Linked DNA regions of Homo sapiens: all the other regions are linked to region 3. The links come from fine-mapping of genetic effects on gene expression. A gene starts in region 3. Each other region holds a variant in brackets. All regions are shown on one strand. Distances are from middle to middle.

What was found.
Region 1: its variant is fine-mapped to the expression of RAPGEF4 in tibial nerve (GTEx, PIP above 0.99). The same link has a PIP of 0.9 or more in esophagus muscle, gastroesophageal junction, lung, sigmoid colon, subcutaneous fat and sun-exposed skin.
Region 2: its variant is fine-mapped to the expression of RAPGEF4 in ovary (GTEx, PIP above 0.99).

What each region holds. Positions count from the first base shown.
Region 1 is chr2:173,016,936-173,019,696 of GRCh38, forward strand. RAPGEF4 (Rap guanine nucleotide exchange factor 4) reads left to right here. Exons shown (of 31, transcript NM_007023.4): 20 at 239-269; 21 at 491-569; 22 at 1,721-1,867. Among named protein-coding and RNA genes, the nearest start is that of MAP3K20, 58 kb to the right of the region's middle. The variant A/G (reference allele first, on the strand shown) is at 1,440.
Region 2 is chr2:173,009,541-173,012,301 of GRCh38, forward strand. The region is part of intron 17 of RAPGEF4 (Rap guanine nucleotide exchange factor 4); the gene reads left to right. Among named protein-coding and RNA genes, the nearest start is that of MAP3K20, 65 kb to the right of the region's middle. The variant A/G (reference allele first, on the strand shown) is at 1,190.
Region 3 is chr2:172,734,211-172,736,971 of GRCh38, forward strand. RAPGEF4 (Rap guanine nucleotide exchange factor 4) reads left to right here and starts at 1,635. Exons shown (of 31, transcript NM_007023.4): 1 at 1,635-1,838. The coding sequence starts at 1,774. It overlaps RAPGEF4-AS1 (RAPGEF4 antisense RNA 1), which reads right to left and starts at 1,996. Exons shown (of 4, transcript NR_026995.1): 1 at 1,916-1,996; 2 at 1,085-1,251; 3 at 95-223.

The sequences.
Region 1 (2,761 bases), 280 kb after region 3:
GAAATCCTGGCTTTGAACATCGGTTCTGCCAGGAATCTGCCTGTGACAAGAGCTGATATCTTTGCTGTCTACCCTTCTGCTTTGATCTATTACTATTAAAATGAGGAAGCTCATATTGTCTCCTGAAAGGATTCTGTGATTGTGATTTCATTTTCTAACATAAGATTAGTTATATACAAATAAGGCAATTTAATAGTAGCAATGGTATTAAATAATGTGCTTTCTCTACTTCTCGTAGCTCAGAAGATGCAAAGGCACCACAAAAGAAGGTAGGTGGCATGAACTTGCATTCTCTGTCTGTGTCCTGTAGAATTACAATTCCCCAGAAATATTATATTGCAGTATACATAAAAGTGATTTCTTTTTTGTAGACGTGAAATATATTGTCTTCATTTCTTGACTCTGCTTGCTTCTCAGATGTGTCTTCTCTGAGATGCTAGCATGCATTGGTCACTGTCCCTTATGGCACTTGCTGTGGTTGTTTTTACAGCACAAGGTTCTTTTGCAACAGTTCAATACGGGCGATGAGAGAGCCCAGAAGCGCCAGCCTATCCGCGGCTCTGATGAAGGTGAGAACCCTCTTCCAACTAACTCGTAGTTGTATAGATTATTTAGTCAGGATAATGGTAAGCATCACCTTGGACCCACAGAATAGCTTCTTTTGAAGATGCCCTGTTGCCCTCCAGATGGTTTGCTTGGAGGTGCCCTTTGGTGGCCCGATTATTTATGTCCTTAAACTCTTGTGCCTGAAGCCGAGATGCCTGTCTACCTTTCCCTGATTTGGCCTCTCCCTGCTTAACCCCTTTCCTTGGAGGAAATGAAGATGATCTCAGGGCCTGGTTGTCAGGATTGCCCACCCCTGGGAAAAGCTGGTGGGAAGGTAGCTGGCGCCTAGTGGGTGCCAAGGAGACAATGGATCACCAGCATCCTGCCCAGGGACAATGCTCTGGCCCTGAGCCCAGCCCTGAGCAGGGAGGCTTTACATCAGGAAGATCAAGATGCTGGCTTTTGTTTGGTTATTTAAGATTCTCCAAAGAATCACAACCAAAAATAGTCACAATAATAATGATAAAAATTTCATTTAAAGCTATAAATAAATCTTGTCATTTAGGACTGCCTCTAAACCCAGGAATTATAATATAATAATGGGAATTGCTCCCAGGATTTTTGTGTTCAGAGTTGAGCCTCTGGGTGCCATATCCAGATCTGCTGATCTAAGTCTGCTGAGCTAAATAGCATCCGAGCTTACATGGCCTGGCCCCAAAGCACACAAGCCACTGAAGCAAGTGAGCAGGAGTGTCAGCACGTGCTCATGGCCCAGGCGGAAGCCCTCCTGTGTGCAGAGAGGTGAATGGTGTCTCCCCACTGCCACACAGGGTAGCAGTGATCTGTGAATTGCCTACAGTATAGCACTTCAGACCCTGAACATCAGCCTGAAG[A/G]TACTCTCAATTTTTTCCCATGACCTCTTTGTGGGGTTTTCACCAATATCTCTTGTTCTTTTAATTGGACTTGGCAACCATATGTGCACCTATTCTTAGACCAATGCTAAGGTAAGCAGTTTAGAAGGGGCAGGAATAGGGGTAAATGAGTATGAATAAATACAGTAACAAAAATGGCAAAATGATGCAAATTGGAGAGGATGCCTAAACATTTTTCATAACTATAGTTTTATTGAAAACTCTTAAGAGTGATTTACTACCTTGTTACTGCCTTTGGATAGTTCTGTTTAAGGTCTATTGCATGGACCACACCTACACAACCATTCGGGTGCCAGTGGCCACTTCGGTGAAGGAAGTCATCAGTGCAGTTGCCGACAAGCTGGGCTCCGGGGAGGGCCTGATCATAGTCAAGATGAGTTCCGGAGGAGGTAACAGTCTTAATTCATATTTTAGGCTCTGCAAAATGGGACATTCCATCCAAGCAGAAACTATGTAAGGAGTTAGCGTGGTCATGTGAGGCTCACCCAGAGGATGAACTGGTGCTTATGTATGCTTCCACTAATAACAGAAACAGTATGGGTAGAGGTGGGTTGGGTTTCTAATGTCCCCTATCTGGTAGGTACCCACTCTAAATCAGAAAGGTGACTGGAACTGAGGACTGTCGTGTAGATGTTGGCCTGGAGTTCTTTCAATTTAAACTCTATTCAAAAAAGTTTTAGGCCTTGGAGCCCTGAAAAATATGGGCCCCAAGAGGAAATCTAGCTGGACAAGCTCAAGGCCATGGGTTTCTACAAGTCCAAAGTTGGAAGTGGTCAGAAGCTAGTTCTTTGAAGCTGATGATGGTTTTTCTCCTTACTCAGTAGAGAGGCTAGGAGCCTGGCTCAAATGAAATGAGGAATATTTTTCCTCCACGGGATTACAGTTCCTTTCACTGTCCTTGATTACATGGTGCATTTTTGAAATGTCATTTATTCGTTCATCACATATTTACTGGCCACAGTGTGGCTACGAAGGAAAGAATGAGTTAGACACAGCTCACGTCCCCAGGTTGTTCCCAGGCCAGGGAGGAGGTAGACGGTAAGTTAAAACAATTACAGTTCATGCTGGCAAGAGTTTTAGGAATGACCACATATTGTAGTGAGAGACTAGAGGAAGCAACAGTGAGGTTCATTTCTCCAGTCATGATTTGACAGCCATTTGGCGGAATCCTTCAGGAACAGGTGAGCCATTTCTGTCATGTTTTAAGGTGAATGATTCCACTGATGGAGGATTTTTAAATGCATGTTGGATTTTAAGATCTCCCTTCCATTTCTGCTCCAGTT
Region 2 (2,761 bases), 280 kb after region 3:
TTTTTTAGCTCTCATACCAGTAGGTATAATGCAAACATTCCAAAATCCAAAAAAAAAATCTGAAATCCAAAACCACTTCTGGTCCCAAGCCTTTGGGAAAAGAGATACTCAACTGTGTAAGCAAAACTTCAAGTTGGAATTTGAATGATCAGATTTAACAGTGTCTGCTCAGTCGCAGTGAGCCCCTGCTTTCCTAATTGACAGGTATTAAACTATAGCAGATGGGATCTCGTTCAGGTATTAACGATTTCTGTGCCTCTCTATCAGATTATGAAGGCTGTAATAGTTAACTCTTGATTTTCTGCATGTGCTTTGTTATCAGGATTTGGGGGATCAATTTCTACATCTCAGATGGATTTTCCTATTTCCCAACAAACTTTGAAGTCATCTGACTCTGCTGTATAATCTATGTTTGCATAAAGAAAGTAATGTTAACATCAGACAAAACACAACAACATAGGTAAAAAGAGTACTGGGGAGGAAAATAAGAGAACTGAGTTCTAGTTCCAAGAATTCCTTTGATAAATTTGGAAAAATCACTTAAACTCATTCTGCCTCAGTTTTCTTACCTCTAAGGTGATGGAGTTGAAGGAAATGTAATCAAAGGGCTCTTGAAACAGAGATCCTGTGATTCCATGACTTACCTGAAATCAACTCAAATGTGTCAGTGATAAGTTTGGCCACTTAAATTATATGGCCTTTCCTTAATGGTGTTTAAAATACTAATTCAGTAAGTAATTTTAGATTGCCTTACAGACTTTTAAAAAACTAGAACTTTATGAGATATAGGAACCATGTTGTCTTTCTGCATCTCTTTCCCTATGAGTTCAGGCAGCCATATTGCTTCTTTCCTGGACCCAACTGTCATATCATGAGTCATGGCCTTATTCAATAAAAGCACTTCTTGATCATGCATTATTCCAATTTTAGCCAGAGACGGCTTCTTCAACCTTCCTGATGTGTCTGAATTTATGAACATGCTGTATTTGAAATGTTACTCTTTTTAGATTGCACTTTTGACATCATATTGAGACAAGGGAACTAGTAGGATATTCTTTATTCCTTGGCTGCTACCTGAAGGGAATATAGTTTTTCCCCCTTCCTACCTTTTTTGTAGGAGTTAAATAAAAGCTAAAAATTACAAACTTTCTAAAAGCCTGGGGAGATTGTTATGGGAATGAATAGAAAC[A/G]TCAGCATCTGATCTGTAACCATTTCAGGTATAATCAATTGTATACAAAGTTCTCTCTGTGTTTCTTAAGAACCTGATTCAACAGACATTTCAGAAGGGGAACCCTATGTGTTGCCTCTGGAGGAGCAGAATCCTTTAGCAATGCCTGGATTCAGCTATAAAAGAAGTATCACCCCCACCCTCACTTTAGTAAATAAACATCCATGAGGGGACAAATGAGACTTTGTGAAATAAGTCAGCGCTTCCTTTTATTTTCCCAGGGGTAAAAATACTGAACTTTCGTGAGAAAAGGGAGAAAGCCTTTCCCAGTCCCTCCGGATTTGGTCAATTCTATCTCCCTAGAGGCTGTGGGGTTCTTCATCAAAGACAAGGGGTGCTCAGCCCTGGTGACTAAACATGCTGAATCAGCTGCGGGAACCTTGGAACTTCAGCGCGCGCGCGCACACACACACACACACACACACACACACACACACACACGGAATCTCTTTCCCATTAGGCTTTTTGCTTTCCAGATGCATTTATTCTTAATAATTTCATGAACCCAAGCACTAAGGTCTAGTTGCTATAGCTGCTGGTTAGGATAGTGGGGGTGGGAATAGTGGAAAGAGCCCTGTCTGAATTTGCAAGCCCTGCCATTTATTCACTCAACAACCTTGGCCAGATCTCTTCTCTCTGAATCTCCTTTTCCCCACCGGTAAATATTTCCTCCTCAGGTTTGTAGAAAGCATCATTTGATAGCATAAGAATATTGACTTATTTTATGAATTGTAAAGCTCTATACACATGTTATCATAACAAGTAGGAAAGAATCTTTCCTCTCTCTCTCTCTCCCCCCACTCCTCCTTTCTCTCTTACACATGTGAATACCTCCTTTCCAACATGTTGTCCAATGTAATATTTCAGATGAATAGGACTGTGCCCATTGTATCACCAGAACCTAGCATGGTGCTTTACTCAAAGTAGTCGGTTAATTAATAATTAGTGAATCAATTGGATCAATTTGAATAGTTTCTTTGCCTAAGTACTTGTAAAGCATTTTGATGTATTTTCTCTGAAAAGCATATTAATTCATTTGAAAATATATTTATTTCTTAAAAACCACATTAGCAGACTCCGTCTCAAAAAAAAAAAAACCACATTAGCACCTTAATTGTCCTATCTTGGGGTTATTTTTCTAAATTGAGGCTAAGTGTTCACCACTCTATTACTACCAGCTCAGTAAAAGCTTCCCTTTCCTCTCTATGCTGTTTCCATCTTTGAGTGATTCAAAATATGCTCATGTTGCATGTGTAGTGAAATATTTTTAAGATTGTAGTTTATAGAGTAACTTAGGGCACAGTGTGACATTCTTTTAAATTGGCATGATCTGAGAGAGAATTAAATTTGCTCATTTTTCACAGTACAAGGCCATCAGAAAGGTTGTCTTTCACAGGCACTATCACTTAGACTTAGAAGAGGGACTAGAGGGAAGAAGCCTAGCCTCAGGTACCCGGTGAGGAACACGCATGGTCCATAGTGGCATCAGGATATTTGGGACAGCAGTCTAGGGAGCGAGCCCAGCCTAATGGG
Region 3 (2,761 bases):
GACTATTATTAGTATCATAACCAAAGCTATGGCAACTCTGAGCCTCTGTGTGATGACAGGTGATGTGCAGCTCCTTTCTCCTCTAGCTCCTTACCTGGAAACCTTCTTTGCAGAAAGGCATTTTCAGAAAGCTTTTGGTGACCTTGAAACATTCTCAGGTGCTCTCTGATGTCTTTATAAATGAAACTTAATATATATAGGAGATACAGTTCCTCCTTCATACCTGTATAGTAAAAAAGCCACAACATAAATACCTTTGGTTAATCTTTCTATAGTATATTATTTTAAATATTAGCATAAACATGATAGAAATTAACAGAATGAAGGTTAACTGGGGGAAAAGCCCTGAGCAGGGAGGGAGGAGTTGCTGTGGGAACACTGTGGCAGGTCTGAAACTAGATCCTGGCTATCCAGCAGAGGGAAATGGCACATATTTGGAGGCTTTTATATCATGGTAATAATTGTTTTATTAGGATCAAAGCATCCCAGAAAGCACTTGCTCTTTCCTTCTCTCCAGTCCCCCTGACTCTCCCCTGAGCAGGGTTGGATAGGAGGTTTGGTGGGGGGAGGAGGCAGGGAACAGTAGAAGAAAGCAATGCTATGTCCCTTTCCCCCATTGTCTGGCCCCAAATGTAGTGCCATAAATATCAAAACAGTGCTTGGTAATAGTCCAAAACATTTAACTTGTCCGCAAATTCCTAAACAACCATTGGCGTGTAATTTGGTTCTTGGCAGAGTGTAACTGAATAACTTGTAGACATGACATTTGTGTGAACATCTACAAGAGACAGGCCGTTATCACCACCCATTCAACACTCCAGCCAGAGGAAGAACAGCAAGGGGGCCAGCCATACAAGTTCACCTGCGCGTCCGGGGTCTCGGTTCTGCTGTGGCCCGGCTACTCCCCATTCTCAACTGTGTTTTCTTCACCATGCAGGTGATGGAAGCCCAGGCAGGCCCAGGGTTCAAGGCCAGTGACTTCAGCCTGTCACCCCCTCAGACCACATCGGGCCCACCGGCCTCCTCCCTCCCTGCCCCTCAGCCCTGCCCGCACTGCCCCCCATTGCGCCCAGCCCTTCCTCACCCCGCAGGAGAAGCTGGCCTCTCATTCCTCACTGAGAGACTCGACGGGCGTCCCCACGCCAAGCCTTCCTCGCCCTCCCCTCCAGCCTTTTCTGAAGGGGAGACAGCAAAGGTGAGCAAGCAACCGCCGGCAAGTTTCGACAGCTGCTGAGGAAGACTCATGGGTTTCTAAGGAAACAGAGAGGCAGCAGCCATTTTAGTAGCATTTGCTGTATGAAAAATATATAGACACTGGCAGCCCTCTCCCCACTCTGCCTTGGCGCCTGCCCTCCCGCCCCGCCTCAGAGGCCCCGGGGTGAGGGTGGGGCCCCAGTCTCCGAGGGACGCAGCGGACACCTGTCGCAGGTGGCCGGCCACCGGGGTCGCCACCCCCAGTGTCCCCCAGCAGCGGGACCGCGGGGTCCCCACCCCGGGGCGGAATCCCCACCCACGGGCGCCGCAGTGCAGCGGCGGGCGGGCGGGCGACTCGGCCCTCCCCGCACCCGCGTCCCGCCCCCCGGGTCCCCTCCCTCTCCCCACCGCCCCAGGCCGCGGGAGCCCGCGGGGAGGGCGGGCCTGTCGCAGCCGCGCTGGTCGCCAGGCGTCCGGGAGGAGCGGGGTCCGCGCGGCGGACGAGGCGGGGGCGGAGGCGCAGGCAGAGCGAGCGCGGGAGGTCGCCGCAGCCAGGGACACCGCGCGCCGCCGCTCAACATGGTCGCTGCGCACGCTGCCCATTCTTCCTCCTCTGCCGAGTGGATCGCCTGCCTGGATAAAAGGTAGCTCGCCGGGGGCCGCAGCCGGGGGCCGAGCTCTGCGGTGCTGCCCGGGCCCTGAGACCGCCGCAGCTCCGCACCTGGGCGCAGCGCGGCCGGGCTGCGGGTGGCCGGGGTCCCCGAGCGGGGGAAGGGGTTGAGGTCCTCGTCCGGGAGACAGGAGGACAAGGATCCCCGCCTCTCGTGGGGTGCCAGCGGCATGAGATTATTACACGTGGTGGAGAAAATGCAGCGCAGTAAGGGGAGAGAGCACCCACCTCTCCAACCCCCTGCCCTGCCGCGACTCCAGGCTCCGCTCCTGGGTGGGGGTTTATTTTCTCTTGGCATCACGGGACAGAAGAATCGATGCATACCCTTTCCGGCTATTCAGACCTTGCGGGGTATGAAGTTTTAAAGAGGGGTGGGGGCACCGGCAGGTGCAGAGTAACATTCTTTTTTTGTTCTTGAAAGCAAAGTGTGAGGGACCCGGTGGAGCTGTCGAATCCCTTGCTGAAATTCACAGCTCTCTGCCCCCGCAGTCGCTCGCTCAAGGTCTGTGTTAGAGAAGGTCATTTGGGAGGCTGCTTTCGTCTTAATACCTGCTTCTCGGGAAAAGATCTTTACGCTAAAAATAATTAAAACCATAAAGCATGTAACTCCCGACGACAGCTCTCTCTAAGGAGGATGTGTGTGTTAACAGTGGATTGCAGTTGTTTCCAGGCTGTGACAGCATAATTTTCTGTTTGTCCAGATTGCAGGTTTAAACGTTACACAGTATGTTAGCAATTATAGCTTATTACCCTGATTAAAAGGTGATGCATCTGAACTTTTAAGAACTGAGCAAGAAATCTTGCAGAGTGAACTGCCTCTGAATTTCGGAGTTTGATGCAGAAGGGCAATGATGCACGTCTTGCAGCTATCTGCATGACATCTCTATTTGCATTTGT